Regions from separate parts of the Homo sapiens genome. Here region 2 is linked to region 1. The links come from fine-mapping of genetic effects on gene expression. Tissue or cell type: cerebral cortex. Region 1 holds a variant in brackets; the other region holds the start of a gene. All regions are shown on one strand. Distances are between the middles of the regions.

What was found. PIP is the estimated chance that this variant, and not a neighbour inherited with it, causes the effect.
Region 2: LIMCH1 starts here. The variant in region 1 is fine-mapped to the expression of LIMCH1 in cerebral cortex (GTEx, PIP 0.92).

The regions. Positions count from the first base shown.
Region 1 is chr4:41,632,233-41,640,340 of GRCh38, forward strand. It overlaps LIMCH1 (LIM and calponin homology domains 1), which reads left to right. Exons shown (of 32, transcript NM_001330672.2): 11 at 517-635; 12 at 745-853; 13 at 1,316-1,576; 14 at 6,700-6,735. Among named protein-coding and RNA genes, the nearest start is that of LIMCH1-AS1, 57 kb to the right of the region's middle. The variant G/A (reference allele first, on the strand shown) is at 3,372.
Region 2 is chr4:41,534,767-41,542,874 of GRCh38, forward strand. LIMCH1 (LIM and calponin homology domains 1) reads left to right here and starts at 3,391. Exons shown (of 32, transcript NM_001330672.2): 1 at 3,391-3,584.

The sequences.
Region 1 (8,108 bases):
CAGCAGGAGCAAAGTGAGGCTCTCCGTAGCAGGAAGAAGTGTTCATAGCATTCTTCTTTATACCTTGCCCTTGAAATCCAAAGGAAATGATGGATGGCCTATGACCTATAGAAGGGTTTCTTTGGTTCCAGACTCGGGGTGACACCATAGAAGAGAGAAGGCTATAAACACCAGAAATAAAGAGTTGAGGTTTCAGAGGATGGTGGGGATCTGGGGTGGGGAGGAGGGGGTAGGAAATTAATAAGAAATACGTCCTCGAGGCCTTGAATCCTGAGAGGCCCATCATTCAGTCTTGTGGTGACAGAGTCACACAGCCTTGTTTGACCTTCATAGGCCCTAGCCAGAGTTCACATTCCATTATCTCAATCTGATTATATCATCCTTACTAACCAGCCTTTGGAATGAGAGCAGCCACATTCTTCTCTTAATCTTTCAGTCCCAAGGACTTTCACTGTCTTCTTTCGTAACCCATGTTCCTCTCCTCTCTTGCCACCAATGCTACTTGATCGTCTGCAGAACAATGAATTGTGGCCGAGGTGACTATTGCAGAAGGGCCTCGTGGCTGGCTCCTGTGCCGGAGTCTCAGGAAGAGTGGGTCTGCAGTTTGGGCGAGTGCCCGAGGGGGACAGAGGAAGGTGAGGAGCAGTGTTTCCTGCCTTCCCGGGAGGTGAAGGAGGACAGGTGGGGTCAGAGCCTCTGGTGTGAATTCTTTCCTAGGAGTGAAACTGTCCTCTCTGGCTTTAGTTACATCCAAACAGCTGCCACAGGATGGCAAAGAAGAAACAGAAAGCGCTCCAAGAGATTCTGAGAGGCTGTCAAAGGCAGAAAGATCAGAGGACAGCAGCCAGCCACTGTGAGCATCTTGCCTGCGCTCTGCTCCGTGGTGTGTTGCCCCTGCTGTGTGTGGCTGTCGTGTTCCCAAAAAAACAGCTTAAAGTCACAGTCTGCACCTGGCGACTGATAGAGCGTGGAGTAAAGTCACTAAAAGAGTGTGCTCATCCCAAGATCAGAGTTCTGCTTCTGGTGCCCGCTCTGGGTAGATATTTTAGCCTTTGCATGTGGCTGAGTACTGGCCAAATTTCATTCTCAGGACTCATGAAAACCAGAAAGGGACCCCCATTCCTGTGTGAGTATCAGCTGCATGACAGAGGGTCCCAGTACTCAAAAGGGAGATTTCCTGCTCAGCTGCTCTGTGTGCCGCTGCCTCCAGGGATGCTGGCTTCTTCTGTCTTGAATTAACGCCAGTGAGTGACACTACTGAAAATATCTTTAGCAGTAAGTGGCCTTTGACTGGCTGGACTGAATGTTGCCCTAGGGTGTGTCCTCTGGCCTCTGAGTGTGAGGCTTCAGGGACAGAAGAGAAGTTGGAGAAGATGACAGCTCCTGCCTGGAGTGGCAGTGGACTGAAAGGCCAGCGAAAGTTGGATGATTCACGAAAAGATGACATGATGGCCAGGAGAACTGGGATGTCCCTTAGACACACTGGATCCAACCCAAACCAGTTCCTTCCAGTTCCATTTGCAAAGCAACAGGATGTGGAAGAATCTTCTAAAGGTCTACCCATGAAAGATCAGAGGTCAGAAAGTTATTCTGTGCCCTTGTGACTTTGTTTCTCCAGTCTGAGCTTTCAGTGTGTTCTTAATGCATTATGGCACCTCAGTGCCGCTTACCTGCTGTTGCTAGCAGAAACAGAATGATCAAAATTGGCCTCATCTGCGAAGAAATTTTTCCTCTTTTTACATGTAAGCAGGTGTGATTCAGTGGTGAATTTACCTGTTAAACATTTTTTTCTGACTCTTGTGGACTGAATAAATGGGAAATTCTTTTATTTCTTTCTAGCTCACATAGGAGCCTTTGGGCAAAGGGGTTGAACTTCTATCTGACTTACTTGATTTCACTTTGATTCCAGGTCCAAAGAAGATGAATACATTTATAAAAGTTGTAATTATATTAATTTTTCAACATTAGCAAACACTCGTTGCCTTCTGCAGTAGGATTTCTATTCCATGCTCTGACTTGACTTAGAGTCAACCATGACTTGATGACGACTAAGGAAATAATTATCCTGGGGTTCCTGTTCCAGTTTAGGGTCCTATATGTTGAAGCCTGTCTTGCCATTTAATAAAAGTGATACATTTTTGTTAAATGTATGGTAAGCCTACCAATGTAGGGCAAAGAAGTGAGGAGGGCTTTGCATAATTTATAAGCTCACCATAAAATAGGAAGCAATGGAGTTCTGCTTCTCCAAGGACCCTGATGGCAGTGGGAGAGAAGGCAGAGTGGGAGGCAAGGAGAACAGTAGGTAATCTCTCCAGATTTTTAAAAAATCAATACCCTAGCCATCTTGATCACCTGAATTTAATCTATATTTTACATTCTTCTGAATAAAACAGTAATGGAGCCTAGCACTGTTTTCAGGGAGCAGAAGTAATATTTGTGCTTTACAACCACAGAGTGCTTTGTAGCGTTTCCTGTGTGTCTGCTCCCTCAAGCTCACCTTGTCCTGGGAATTCACAGGTAGGTTGAAGGAATCTATGTTAGCTCCATTTCACAAATAAGAAGGCTGATGTAGAGAAAAGCTGCGTGAGTGGATCACACATGATTCCCGAGCTGGTTAGGACTGGGAAGACAGAGGAACAGAGTGGTGAAGTGGGTCCTCCACAGTTACTCACTTTCCAGATGCCCTGGACTTGACCCTGGATCCGCGGGCTTCTGTAAAGCAAGTTAGAATGAAAGGAAAGAAGGAGGTGAGGCCTAGAGACTGCCTACTGGATACATTTAGGCGCTCTCCCATTCATTTATTCCTTACACTACCTTTGAGAGGAAGAATTTTCATCTGCATTTTGCAGTTAGGAAACTGAGGTCCACATGTACACAGCTGGTACCTACAGAGCCAAGATCCAAACTCAGCTCTGTCAGAGTGGAAAACCAGCATCCCTCTCCAGCATGATGCCTACACGAGTAACTAGAGGAGACTGTGGAAGCCTGAGGAATTCTCTGTCACTTTTTTTTTTTTTTTGAGATGGAGTCTTGCTTTGTTGCCCAGACTGGAGTGCAGGGCCCGATCTCAGCTCACTGAAACCTCTGCCCATTCAAGCGATTCTTATGCCTCAGCCTCCTGAATAGCTGGGATTATATGCGCCCTCCACCACGCCCAGCTAATTTTTGTATTTTTAGTAGAGACGGGGTTTCGCTGTGTTGGCCAGGCTGGTCTGGAACTCCTGACCTCAAGTGATCCACCTGCCTTGATCTCCCAAAGTCCCGGGATTACAGGTTTGAGCCACTGCACCTGGCCTGTCACTCTTTGTGATTCTGGAAAGATTCCTCTTTATTTTCACATGGGAATGGACAGTTACTCTGAGCACAGGGAG[G/A]AATGGTCAGGTGAACTATGTGACATATTGTGTGAATGAGCCAGCAAACACTGTCGGTATGCACATTTCCTATCAACAAGTGTTTATCAAGTAATAATCACTATGTGTAAAGCACTGTGCTGGATGCTGGGGGTGATCTTAGATGAGCAGTAAAAACACTTTAAGCTAACGCTAGTTCATGATATAGAAATAGATAACTATCAAATTATTGATTCTGAAATGCTTTATTAGTAGTGAAAGTTACATAAATACAGGCAATGGGTGCATAGGCTATTCCCTTTATCTTTCTACCTACCCCTACCCTCAAAAGTAAACTTTATTTTATTTTTTTGAGACAGGATCTCACTCCATCACCCAAGCTAGTGTGATCATAGTTCACTGCAGCATATCCCTTCCAGACTTGAGCAATCCTCCCACCTCAGCCTCCCAAGTAGCTGGGACCACAGGCGTACACCACTACACCTGGCTGATTTTTTTGTTTTTATTTTGTAGAGGCAGAGTCTCACTATGTTGCCCAGGCTGGTCTCAAACTCCTGGCCTCAAGTGATCCTCTAACTTCAGCCTCCCAAGTGTTGGGATTATAGGCATGAGCCACCATGCCTGGCCTCAAAATTAAACTTTATTGACTTTTTTTTTTTTTTTGTAGGATGCTTTTGTCAACTGTGACCTGCGTGGCCAATTTTTACCTCATAACCTATTGAGTCACGTACTTTGCATTGGAAAGATTGCTTTATTACTTTTTTTTTTTTTTTTTTTTGCTAACTTGCCTTTACTTTTTGATCTCCTGTAGGATGATTGGGAAAGTCACTTGACACCTCAGCTCTAATTATCTTCCCCTTGCCAGCAAAGGCAATTCTGCTTAAGTTGGTGCCCTTTTAAAGCTAATACAAGTCTCAGAGGAAATTCCTTAAACCCCCAGTACATAGTAAAGGGATAAATGAAGGTTATCTTCGGAAACTGGGCTATTCTTTTCTCTTCAATTTCTAGAGCACCTGATAAGTATTTAATAAATACTTATTGACTAGTCTGGCCACTGTTCAGGGAACCCAAACAGAAAAATCTCTGCTTCTGTGGGGCTTACATTTTGGTATAGATCTACATTTATTGGTAGAGATGTCCATGAAATACTGTTAATTACTTTGTGTAGAAACAACTTAAATTCAGATATATCCTACATGCAACAACATAGTTGAAACTCACAAAATGTGCTAAAGAAGACAAACTCAAGAGTACATACTATTTGAGTCTGTTTACGTAGTACAAATCACTCAACGCTAATCTATGCATATGTTCATTTTGTGAAAATGCATTGAAGTATATGTGTGGTATGTGCACTTTCTGTATATAGCTTAAACTTCAATAAAATGTTAATTAAAATATTCAAATTGAAACACAAAAACACATAGCAACTATTAATAGATTCTTGATTAACCATCCATTGGGAAGAAATTCTCTGCTCTCTTCCATAGATAACTTAGAAAACACTGTGTTTGAATAAATGTATTCCAATAGGCCTATTTATTAACTGGGAAACACTTACCTAGTCTTCAGAATTAATATTGCCCTTGCACTCCTTTTCCTTTTCCTTTCCTTTCCTTTTCAGACAGAGTCTCACTCTGTTGTCACCCAGGCTGGAGTACAGTGGCGTGATCTCTGCTCACTGCAACCTCTGCCTCCCCAGTTCAAGTGATTCTCCTGCCTCACCCTCCAGAGTAGCTGGGACCACAGGTGTGCACCACCATGCCCAGCTAATTTTTTATGTGATTGGTAGAGACAAGGCTTTGCCATGTTGCCCAGGCTGGTCTCGAACTCCTGAGCTCAAGCAATCTGCCTGCCTTGGCCTCCCAAAGTGCTGGGATTACAAGCATGAGCCACCACGCCCAGCCCACTCTCTCAATGTGAAAGAACCCACTTGTCATCTGCTTCAATGCAGTAGTGTTTTTGAAAATTGAGAATATTAGGTTCAACTTAAGCACCTTCCGAAACGATACTCTGGAGAAGGAGAAAATGAGTCTTACTGCCAGAAGAAAAACATTCATAAACCCTTTCCTTGTCTTGTTTTTGGCCATTTCAACAGAGATTTGGGGTTTTGCATTGGTATGGTTGCCTTCACTGTGAATTAAATCATTATCAATGAATGTAGATTATTCTAGAATGATAAAAGCATAAGAGAGAAGGGGGTATGTGTGTGTACACTCATGCATTCTGGGGTGTTTTCTCTAAGATTCTCTAAGATTTCTCTAAGATTGCAGGAAGAGATGTTTAGAAATTACCCTTTTCCTATAAACTATTGTGAAACTGATCATGGGACCAGGTAATTTTTGCTGCCGACTCCAAAATGTAATTTATTGGAAACTGGAAGCAGGACGTATTTTCTTCACTATTCTTTGTCCACCATCAGAATTGCAGAAAGGAGGAGCTTTTCAGGGTATAGGTAAGAACTGACCCTTAAAACTCGCCTTTGCTGAAGAGACAGGCATTTGTGGGAGCTGTGTTGTTTTGTTGTTGTTGTTGTTGTTGTTGTTGTTGTTTTTTCATGTGCTGGAAATATGGCTTGTAATGTTCTAATATTTTTCTAATTTAGTCTTTTTGCTTTAGACTCATTTAGACTTCCGGTGACTATCGCAGAGGGTACAACTTTATGGATCTAAATTATCAGGAGAATATAAAAGATTAGAAAAAAACTTTAGTTTTTCAAGTTATGGAGTATCATTCAAGTCTGGTTTTGATTAAGGCTACCAGTTTTCTAGGAATTGTGGTTTCTGTCAAATGCATGCGGAAGGCACTGATTGGGGTTCTGGTTGGAGTTCTGGTTTCCCTTCAGAAAACTGCAGAAACACTCTTTGATGTTATTTGTGCAAATGCATTAACATCTCAGGGACAGGGTCAGTAAGGGTGCACTTGTACAGTGGGTGTCCATTACAGCCCATTACTGCTGAACATAAAGGCACAAAAAGTTGAACTGTTTGTGAATGACTGTAATACATGTTTGTTTTCTAAGCTGCCTTCTCTAAACGCTGTGGATTGCACCTAAGCCTTTCTGTGTTTATATTGAACAGATTCTTTCTTTTTGGGTAGTGTGGGGATTATTTTCATTTCTCTTCTGGGTTTTGAGATAAATTTTGCATTTTTTAGAAATATCAAGACTTGTCTTTGATTTTTCAGCAGCCAATGAATATTGCTAATTGTATAATGCCATTTCTCTTTCAGTATCTCAGCAAAAAAGGTTTGGCGCACATGTATTTCACCGGCAGTTTCTATTTCCAGCTTGCTTACAGTGTTCACTTTCAACTCTGCCAGTCCTCTAATTTTTTATTTGATCTTATAGATACGGTCCGAGAACTCCTGTGTCTGATGACGCAGAGTAAGTTGCCTTGTATTTGTAGGATTACATTAATTACTAGCCTAAACTGCATGCTTCCAGTACTTACCACTAATTGAAATGCAACTGATGCAAGTGAACTGAATAGTTAGCTGACTTGTGCAGCAAAGCACTTGAAGTTGGAATGCAGAGCATACATTCTGTGCAGGAAAGATGAATGAAAAAGCAACTTAAGCATGATTCTAATATGAAGCTGCTGCTTGAAACTTAACATTTGCTTTCCATAGACTGGGCATGTTAAAGTCGTTGTTCTTGTTATGGTCTGAACATTGGTACCCCTTCTGAACTATAGATTTATTTAAAGGGCATTCTGAGTTTTGCACTTAATTCTTGATATGTTGGGGCTTAGAGTTAACAATGAGGTAGTCATTCCCATAGTCTCATTTTTTAACTAAGAAAATAAATCCCAAACCACTAATTATAGATTCAGAAGCCCAAGTTCCTCCCAGGTTGGAGTCACATAAACTGTGGGATGCTTGAGACCAAAACATTGGAGTTTTGCTCAAGTCCCATGGCTTAGCAGGGGGCCAAGGATGTAAGACATGACTGGCCCTTCCCCTCCCTGCTGCTTGGTTTTCACTCAACCAAGCAGAGGTTCATTCCTTATCCCGTACTCCACATCCAAATTTGAGAAGACTCCAAACCCTCCCATTTGTGACCACATTAACTCTGCTTCAGAAATGGATTTCCCATATGCAGATCATTCTGCAACTGATATTCAAGGCAAACTTTTTTTTATTTGCAAAATGCTAGACTTCTCAGATTCAAGTAATTTGTATTTGAAGAAACATGATTAATATCTAAATCCAGCATCAGTAGTCTGCTGATCCTGATATTGAGGAGCATTTTGTGGCCTCGTGGGAGCCTGGGCCATCCAGAATGTAATCACCAGTCCTCCTCTGCCTATCCTTTCCTGAGCCTCAGTTTCAAGTCACACAATGAGGAATTTGAATAGAATTTGCATGTAGAACATGCAAACATCATTTCCACCAATGACAATGAGATTAGGCAAAAAATTAAGTGTCTTCAGATTGTGCTATTTTCATGTTTGTGTTCAAGATGTCTGCTTAGTTTGGACTCTGAGCCCTAAGTGGTCAAACTCCAGGGCCAAGTTTCCCATGTGTGATCTGACATAAAGAACACTCATGCCTCAAAACCAAATTCAGCCTGAGCTTGACTGACTGCACAGAGTTAAGTAGTCTGTAAAATTGAGCCCTGGTTATTACTTTTCAAACCTGCAATGGCAATATTTAACATTCACTGAAAGGAGGATTTTATAAGATTGACAGGCAAAACACTACTTTGGTTTGGTGAGCGAAAACATTTTGATAGAATGGATTTCTTCTTCATCAATG
Region 2 (8,108 bases), 97 kb before region 1:
GTTTGATCCACATTGGCAGGGACTGGGATATGGAGAAAGGAGTGAAAAAAGGAGTTTGAGACTACAGGAAAAGTCATTAGCAATTGCACTTAGAATTGAAAATCATGACAGAAAGACCGGTGCAGTGGCTCATGCCTATAATCCCAGAACTTTGGGAGCCTAAGGCAGGTGATCGCTTGAGCCCAGGAGTTCAAGACCAGCCTAGGCAACATGGCAAAATCTTGTCTTTACTAAAAATACAAAAAATTAGCCAGGCATGGTTGTGCATGCCTGTAGTCCCAGCTACTTAGGAGGCTGAGGTAGGAGAATCACCTGGGCCTGGGAAGTCAAGCCTGCAGTGAGCTTTGAATGTGCCACTGGACTCCAGCCTGGGTGATGGGAGTCGGACCCTGTCACAAAAAAAAAAAAAAAAAAAAAAGAAAAGAAAAGAAAGATCTTCATATAATTGACAATTCATTGAGATATCATATCCATCCAATCTTGTGCCCTGCAGCCTCTCTTATACCCCTGATATTTCATTCTTAGTACTAGATGAGTATATTAATTTGCTCTGATGGCCATAACAAAGTACCACAGATTGGATGGCTTAAATAATAGAAATTTATTTTGTCAATTCTGTAGGTTAGAAGTCTGAGATCAAGGTGTGATCAGAGTGGGTTTGTTCTAAGGCCTGTCTCCTTGGCTCCCAGATGGCTGCCTTTCCCTGCATCTTCACGTGGTCTTTCCCCTGTATGTATCTGTGTCCATATTTTGCCTTTTTATAAGGACACTGTCGTATTGGATTAGGGCCCCCTCAGATGACCTCATATAACTTAATTACCTTCTTACAGTCACTACAGTCACATTCTGAGTTAGAACGGGTTAGGAGTTCAAGATACGAATTGGGGGAGGGAGGAGGAGACAATTTAGCTCGTAACAGTGGGTTAGCCAGCTAAGCCCTTAAATTCTTATTCACGTGTGTTTTGAATGCCTAGACTTGCTAGCTGAAGTCTAATATCCTCTTTCTGCACCACCACAAACTATTTTTCCAAATTTGTTTCCATAATTATTCTGTGTCTCTGCAGAGGTGGAAGGTTATATATAGCAGTGCTGTAAAGCTTTTTTTTCCCCAACTTCATTTTTTTTTCCCTTTCCTGTTCCCGAAAAAACAAAAAATGCCATTCTTTGAAGAAAGAAACCACTTGTTCTCCCTTATCTTTCGTTGAACAGCGTTTAGCAGAATTTGTGACATTACATCAGTTCCTCACTTTTTTCCCTTAGGAATAGACCTTCAATTACAAACTGTGAGCAAAAAATATATAATAGCAGGAAATACATATTTCAGCTGACGTCTGACTCCTTTTTTTCCATAGTTATAGCTTACCTAGAGGATAACTTTCTGTGGAACTAATTCTTAGCATGTATTCCAAACCCAGGTTTATAGGGATTTGGTTGTTTGACAACAGGAAAAAAATACCACCAAATGTATGAAGTATGAGACCATGCTAGGCTGAAACAGCACTTCTCTTAAAACGTGCCTTCCTCTGGATTGTTTTTGTAGGAAGTTTGTCTTGGCAAGCATTTCAAAAGAACTCGCTAGACGCCTCTCTTGTAATTAGCTGGCTTTCTGCTAGAATGTTAGGTCTACCTTCATCTCAAATGGTACAAAAATTAATTCCTCTCTGTCGCTCTGTCCACAGTATAAAATACTAGATTTCTGAGTAGTTTGATATCTAATTTTTCCTTTCTAAAATTTAACTATATTCAGTTTAAGTTTTTGATTTAACTTAAACATAACATTAAAAATAGGATGATTGATATAATGTTATATAGGAATGGTACTTTTCCTCTTTTCCCTCAGTGTTAAAAGAATGGTACTTTTTCCTCACAAAAACCTATATCCCCAGCCATGGAAAGAATATCAGACAAACCTAAATGGAAGGATATTCTACAAAATACCCGACCAGTATTCTTCAAAACTGTCAAGGCCATCAAAAGCAAGGCATATCTGAGAAACAAGGAAAGTCCAGAAAAAGTTAAGGAGACATAATGATTAAATATTATATGGCATTATAGATGGGATCTTAAAACAGAAAGAGCATATTAGGGAAAAACTAATGAAATCCAAATAAAACATGGATTTAGTTAATAGTAGTGTACCAGTGTTTATTTCTTAACTGTGATAAATGTAGATGTACCATAGGAATGTAAGATGTAAGACATGAGTTATACTGAAACTCTGCATATTATCTTTGTAGCTTTCTATAAATCTAAAAACTATTCTAAAATAAAAAGTTCACTTAAAGTAGGATGAATGACAATAAAGATAAAAGAGCATAATGCAAGGAAACTATGAAATAGGTAAGGAAATACAGAAGTTATTAATAAATATTAAATGTCAGCCTACCACTTGATGTATTTGTGTCAATAAATGGCAGGATACCAGTGAGTCCATTGGCATATTAATCCAATAAACTTTTATAAATGATGAATTGGTTGTAAACATTGTGTTTTATAGCATTTGAAAATTCCAAATGGTAACTCCGCACACGATGCTTCTGCTCACATATTTCAGCATCCTGCTTTTAGAATCTGCAGAAAGAAATAGTTCATGTCCTTTAGGGAGGTTTAATAAAAAGCAACAGGTGGAAAATGGATTTTGCAGTAGCATGAACAGCCATAACCATAAATACTAGTACCTCAGAATTATACCAGCAGAGGACTGTAAACACATTAATCTCCCAGCAGTGCAGAAATTCCATTCTCAGATGTCATCTCAATTTCAGGCACAAAGATTGAATGCCTCCATTTAAATTCAAAACACTGAAGGAATATGATGATCCTTTTTTTTCATGGGGATTCATGGAGTGAGTTTGCCAGTTTCCTCATCTATAAGATGGGGTTGATAAATCCCATCTCAGCATTGTGGGATTAAATGAGATGATATACATAAAATACCTAATATGATGGATGGTACACAGGATGTTTTCAATAAATGGTAGTTTACTTTTTATTATGCTCATGAACATTAGGATGGTCTTAGAATCCCAGAACTAGAAGCCACTTAGAGATTTACTTTTTGAAACATTGTTATTTTACAAATAAGGAAACTGAGACCAGAAGGCAGTGACTTGCCTGGAGTCAGGCAGCAACTTTGTTCCAGAGTTGGGACTGGAGTGAGTCTTTGTTCCTCGGGTCCCACTTGGGTGCTTTTTCTAGATCCAGATTTCCTGACAGTACTGCAAACCTACTGTGTGCTAGTGGCTGACACAAAGCTCTCTGCACAATTCCAATCCTGGCATCTCTACTTCTGAAGATGCCATTCCTTTTCCTCAGAGGGAATGGGCTTCTCCGCCTCCCTCTCCAATAGGTGTGGCAATCAGCTGTCTTCCAGTTCCCTTTCACTGCATCAGCATTTCAGCCGCAGCAGCCTGCTTGTGGACAGAGCAGGGGTTGGCAGTGGTGACGACTGTTTTGGGAAAGGAAATGTAAGGGCATTTCGGCTGCTGTGCTGGGGCTGACGAGGAGCACACAGGAGAGATGCCCCTCCCATCTCCCAGAGTGGGTTGGCTGGAGTTCATTGCGGAGCATGAGGACGTGTGGGGGTAAGTAAAATTCATTATAAAAGAAATACATGCTTAGGGGTATCCATGATGGAAAGAAGGAAGCTATTTAGACTTTAATACTTGGTTTAAAAAAAAGTGACTTTTTATTCACTTATTAGTATGGCGAAAATAATATGAAAATTACTTTCCTGTGGATTCATCTTGTCCTTTGATAACTGTTAGCACCTGTTGCTTTTAATTAAGCTTTTTTTTTTTTTTAATTCCCTAAGGAAAGCATTGTTTTTTATTTTCCGGTATGTGGTACAAGACACATAACTCCATTAGTTTAGTCAAAATAAAAAGGATTTTTGAGAATTTTGAGAATGAGAAGCAACTTGGCTGCATTTTTAAGATGTGGTCCAGCAGCACATGGTGTTGTGGGGGAGATGTGGCTGCATTCATGGTGGGGCTGCTTCACCTGAGCCCCTGTCACATTCTGCTCCTGACTCCACAGCCCCCTTTGCTTTTTAAAAACTTCCATTTCTTAAAATGAGGAGGAAAAGAAGCAAGGAAGACATTGGGGAGGCAGGGAGGAGTCTGGAGGGAAGGGCTGCATCTCCAGCCTTGCCCACTTAGTCCTTGTCCTTCATAGTCACTATTTACTGCAGGCCGGGAAAGGAATGGGGGTTATTTCTGGACAATTGTCTCATAAAATCCCGTCAGACCCGTCTGAATGCTAAACGTTCCATGGCACTGGTTATCTAGGGGAAGAAAATTTTCCTTAGCCAAATTTATGAGGCTGGGTTGAAAATCAGGTTGAAACAGAGCCTGGCGAATCCCTATGGCAAAATGATTCATCTTTGTGGAGTCGGGAAATCTATTTTTATCACCTTTATTCAGCCAGCTCCTGATTGTGATTCTCTCACTGAGCTACAGCCGTTTTCTTCATGGTGCTGAATAGACCAAATGTCTCAGGAGTCTGAAACTTCTCTCCTGCCACTCCCAGAGTGGCTGATTCAGCAGTCCCGGGAGAAGGGGTTTGTCCTGTGCTGCGCGGGTGGGTTCCGCACAAGGTGAAGGTCAAATAAAACCGAGAGGCTGCAAGTGTCAGCAGCCAGCCTTTGACTCAGGAATCCTGCCTGAGGGTATGTGCCACTCTGCTCTCCTGCTCTCTCTGTAAGGTGACTAGAAGGTGACTGGGCAGCCATAACTCCTCCAATTTTGAAGACCTTCCCAAGGGAAGAAGGGGCAAGAATAAGCCACCCTCCTTACAGCTGCCAATACATCTCCTCAATCTAATCATCGGGCAGAGAGGGACTTCCTAACACCGTTGTATTCATTTTCCCATTTCCATTTAGTTCTGTAACTATGCATTCCAGGCTGATACATAGTCCTAGCTGGTTCTTGCTGGAGTCCCAACTAATGCTGAGAGGAGTGGCAATTGTTCTCTATAATAAAGTTTAAAGGATAAAGATATGGAAGAAGAACTCACTCTTGAGTTTCCTTTTCTAATGGATTCAGCATGCTTACTCTCTGGGAGCTATAACAAATGGCAATTAGGAAAGCAACAGGAATGTTGACTAGACAGGAACAGTGACCATGGCTGTTGGGGGTATTCCCTGCACCTGGTATATAGTAGACACTCAATAACAATTTGGGAAATGAATGACCAGGATACTGTTCCCCATAGGCTTCAGTTGGCCTTCTTAAGAGCTCTCCTTCAGGACATAGTATGCAGGGCAGCTAGGAGCTGACATTCTAGAGTGAGATGGCCTGAGTTCAAATCCTGGATTTGCAGCTTCTCAGTTGTGTGCTGATCTTTGGCAGGCAACACAATCGTTTGTTTCCTCGTCTGTAAAAATGGACATAATATAGTAACTACCTTATGTGGTTTTCATGAAGAGTAAATTAATTAATATAGGTAAAGAGTCTAGATTTTTTTTTCTTGTCATGTGGTTCAAGATATGAAGAAGAAGAAAAACAGGAGTAGGAAAAGAAGGAGAAAGAGGAGGAGGAGGAACTTTGGCTGTTGGGATAAATTTGGGACCCTTTGAGATTTTGGCCCTGCCTTTTAGGTTGAATATTTCCCTAAAATCATGATTCAGTGATTTTTAAACCTTCTCTTGTCCTGTAGAGAGAATAATTTGAGAATAAAAGAATAAAACGGGCCAGATGCAGTGGCTTACGCCTGTAATCCTAGCACTTTGGGAGGCTGAGGCAGGTGGATCACCTGAGATCAGGCGTTCGAGACCAGCCTGGCCAACGTGGCGAAACTCTATCTCTACTAAAAATACAAAAGTTAGCCGGGTGTGGTGATGGGCACCTGTAATCCCAGCTATTCAGGAGGCTGAGGCAGGAGAATCGCTTGAACCCGGGAGGTGGAGGTTACAGTGAGCTGAGATCGCACCACTGCACTCTAGCCTGAAAAGAAAAAAAAAGAATAATAAAATGGATTTCAGGGGGAAAATGATGACGAATTATTGCCAAGAGTTATTGAACTCCTGCTCCTTGCCAGGTACTAACCATATTCAGTGTTGAAACAAACTGTCAGTCCTTGCCCTGATGGACGCTGCAGTTGACTTTCAAGGGCTGCTGGGCAGTGTGAATTCAATGGCTCAGCGAACACAGCTGCTACGTTCCTTGTTCTCTACCTTTTAAAAAGGAATGTTGAGTAGATCTAGAAGGATGAAGCTTTAAACTTAGCTCCCAACAGGAAATGAGGAGTGAGGAAGTAGGGAGAGATTTGTGTGTGTGTGGAGTAGCAGATGAAGTCTAACTGTACAGCAGTATAAAGGCAGTGAAAGAAATGTAGACGTGGGCATTGGATTGAACCATGAAACTGAAGGGAAATCCAAAGCAGTAATGTATCATCAACCTGTGAAATGTAAAGAAGCACAGGTAAGTAGTGAAAGAATGAAGGAACCAAAGCAGTTGTTGTAATGATATAAAATAAGAGCCATAGCTTATTAGACCCTTAGAGTCCCAAAGCCCAGCCTTGAGAGTGTAGATTCGGGAAGGCTGGATTCCTTTGGCATCCTCTCTTTTCAGCTCTGGGTACTGCCGCAGCAGGTGAGCTTGTGTTTGGTCCCTTTCAGAGTCTGGAGTCTCCCATCTCTTGGAAATACAAGGATATGTATGAGCTACCAACTCCCATCTGGCTTTACTGGTCTGTGAAACATTCTATTTTAATTTGGTGAATCCTTTTTTGACTCTAGAGATCTTCAGCAGTACCTGCCCTTCACACCGTTTCCTCACCTTTGCCAGATCTGCTTTTGAGTAGCAGTTTTATCCCTAGATGTCTTATAGCCCAGACCTGGTAAATCACCAATGTGAATTATAGAACAGGATCATTTTTCATCCTGCTTTCATCCCAGTGGCTGGATTAATTTTTGGATCTCTGCTTTCTGTAAGCAGTCATTTCTTCCACAGCAGCCATCTGTGAAGAAACAGAGCTTACGAAATGACTGGGGCATGTTTTACATGGCTGTGCTCAGTTCCTTCTGTTTGATTCCCATGTAAGCTTTGGCAGTGATTTCCACAAGCGTTTCTGTGGGAGGTGCTGGAGAATGACTTTGGTAAACAGCCCCTTGGCTATTGTTGGCCCTTTCCCTGCAAATACCATAAAGGACACAACTTGAAAAGTCGCTCTGGTTTCTGAGCCCCTCCTAGGGCCCACCCCAGGTCCGACATCTGAAAAGCCGAACTCAGCCATGCTTGTGGTAGAGCAGCGATGTGGACTGCGTCTGTGTTTGCCTGACTTCTGCTGGGCCACTCTGGGCTGGATGGGAGCTCTGACCATAGAGCTTACTCCCCTCCCCTCATTACACATCCTGGGATTTTCACACTAGCCCTCAATCTGTTGGAGTCTTTTTAGGTAGAATCTCATTTCATCTTCCTCGTTTCCGTTTCAGGTTTTCATTCCAAGAATGGAATGGCTGGTTCCATTGAGAACCAGCCTTAGGAGTTCTCAGTGTATTGATTTTATTTACACTGCTAGTGTTACATTTTGCTTTTAGGAATATGGAAAAGCTTAGGGAATTTTTGGACATGTGTTTTTCTCTCTTTCTTTCTTTTCTTTTTTTTTTTCCTGATGGCCAGAGGTTTCTGCTCTCAAATTACTCAGTCAGGGTAATTAAGGACTAAAAAAATGTGAATGTGTGAATTTAACAGTAAAAACTTAAAGGAAGGAAAAAATACCTTCCTTATAGGAAGAAGAGAAAAATGCATATAAATAAACTTGTTAGAAAGAGAAAACTGATTTACCAGCAACTGAACTCCCTTTTGTTTCTTGATTTTTTTGCCTTTAAATAGGCTGTGCTATTTCCTGAAGTTGACCCATTTTCCTTGCTTCTGCCAACACTCCCTTAAGATAAGTATTTATAAAGTTTATTCCACGTTGATATTTCAATTGTTTCCAGAAATCCATCCCATCATAGCAGCTTCCCTACTGCCAGGGAACCTGACCTCAGTATTTCCTGAAGTCAGAGGATGGTCTTATATGTATGTAAGTGCAGGTATCTACAGTAAGAGAGAACAACTTGCTATATAGGGCTCATATGAGTCAACGCCAATAAATTGAAAATA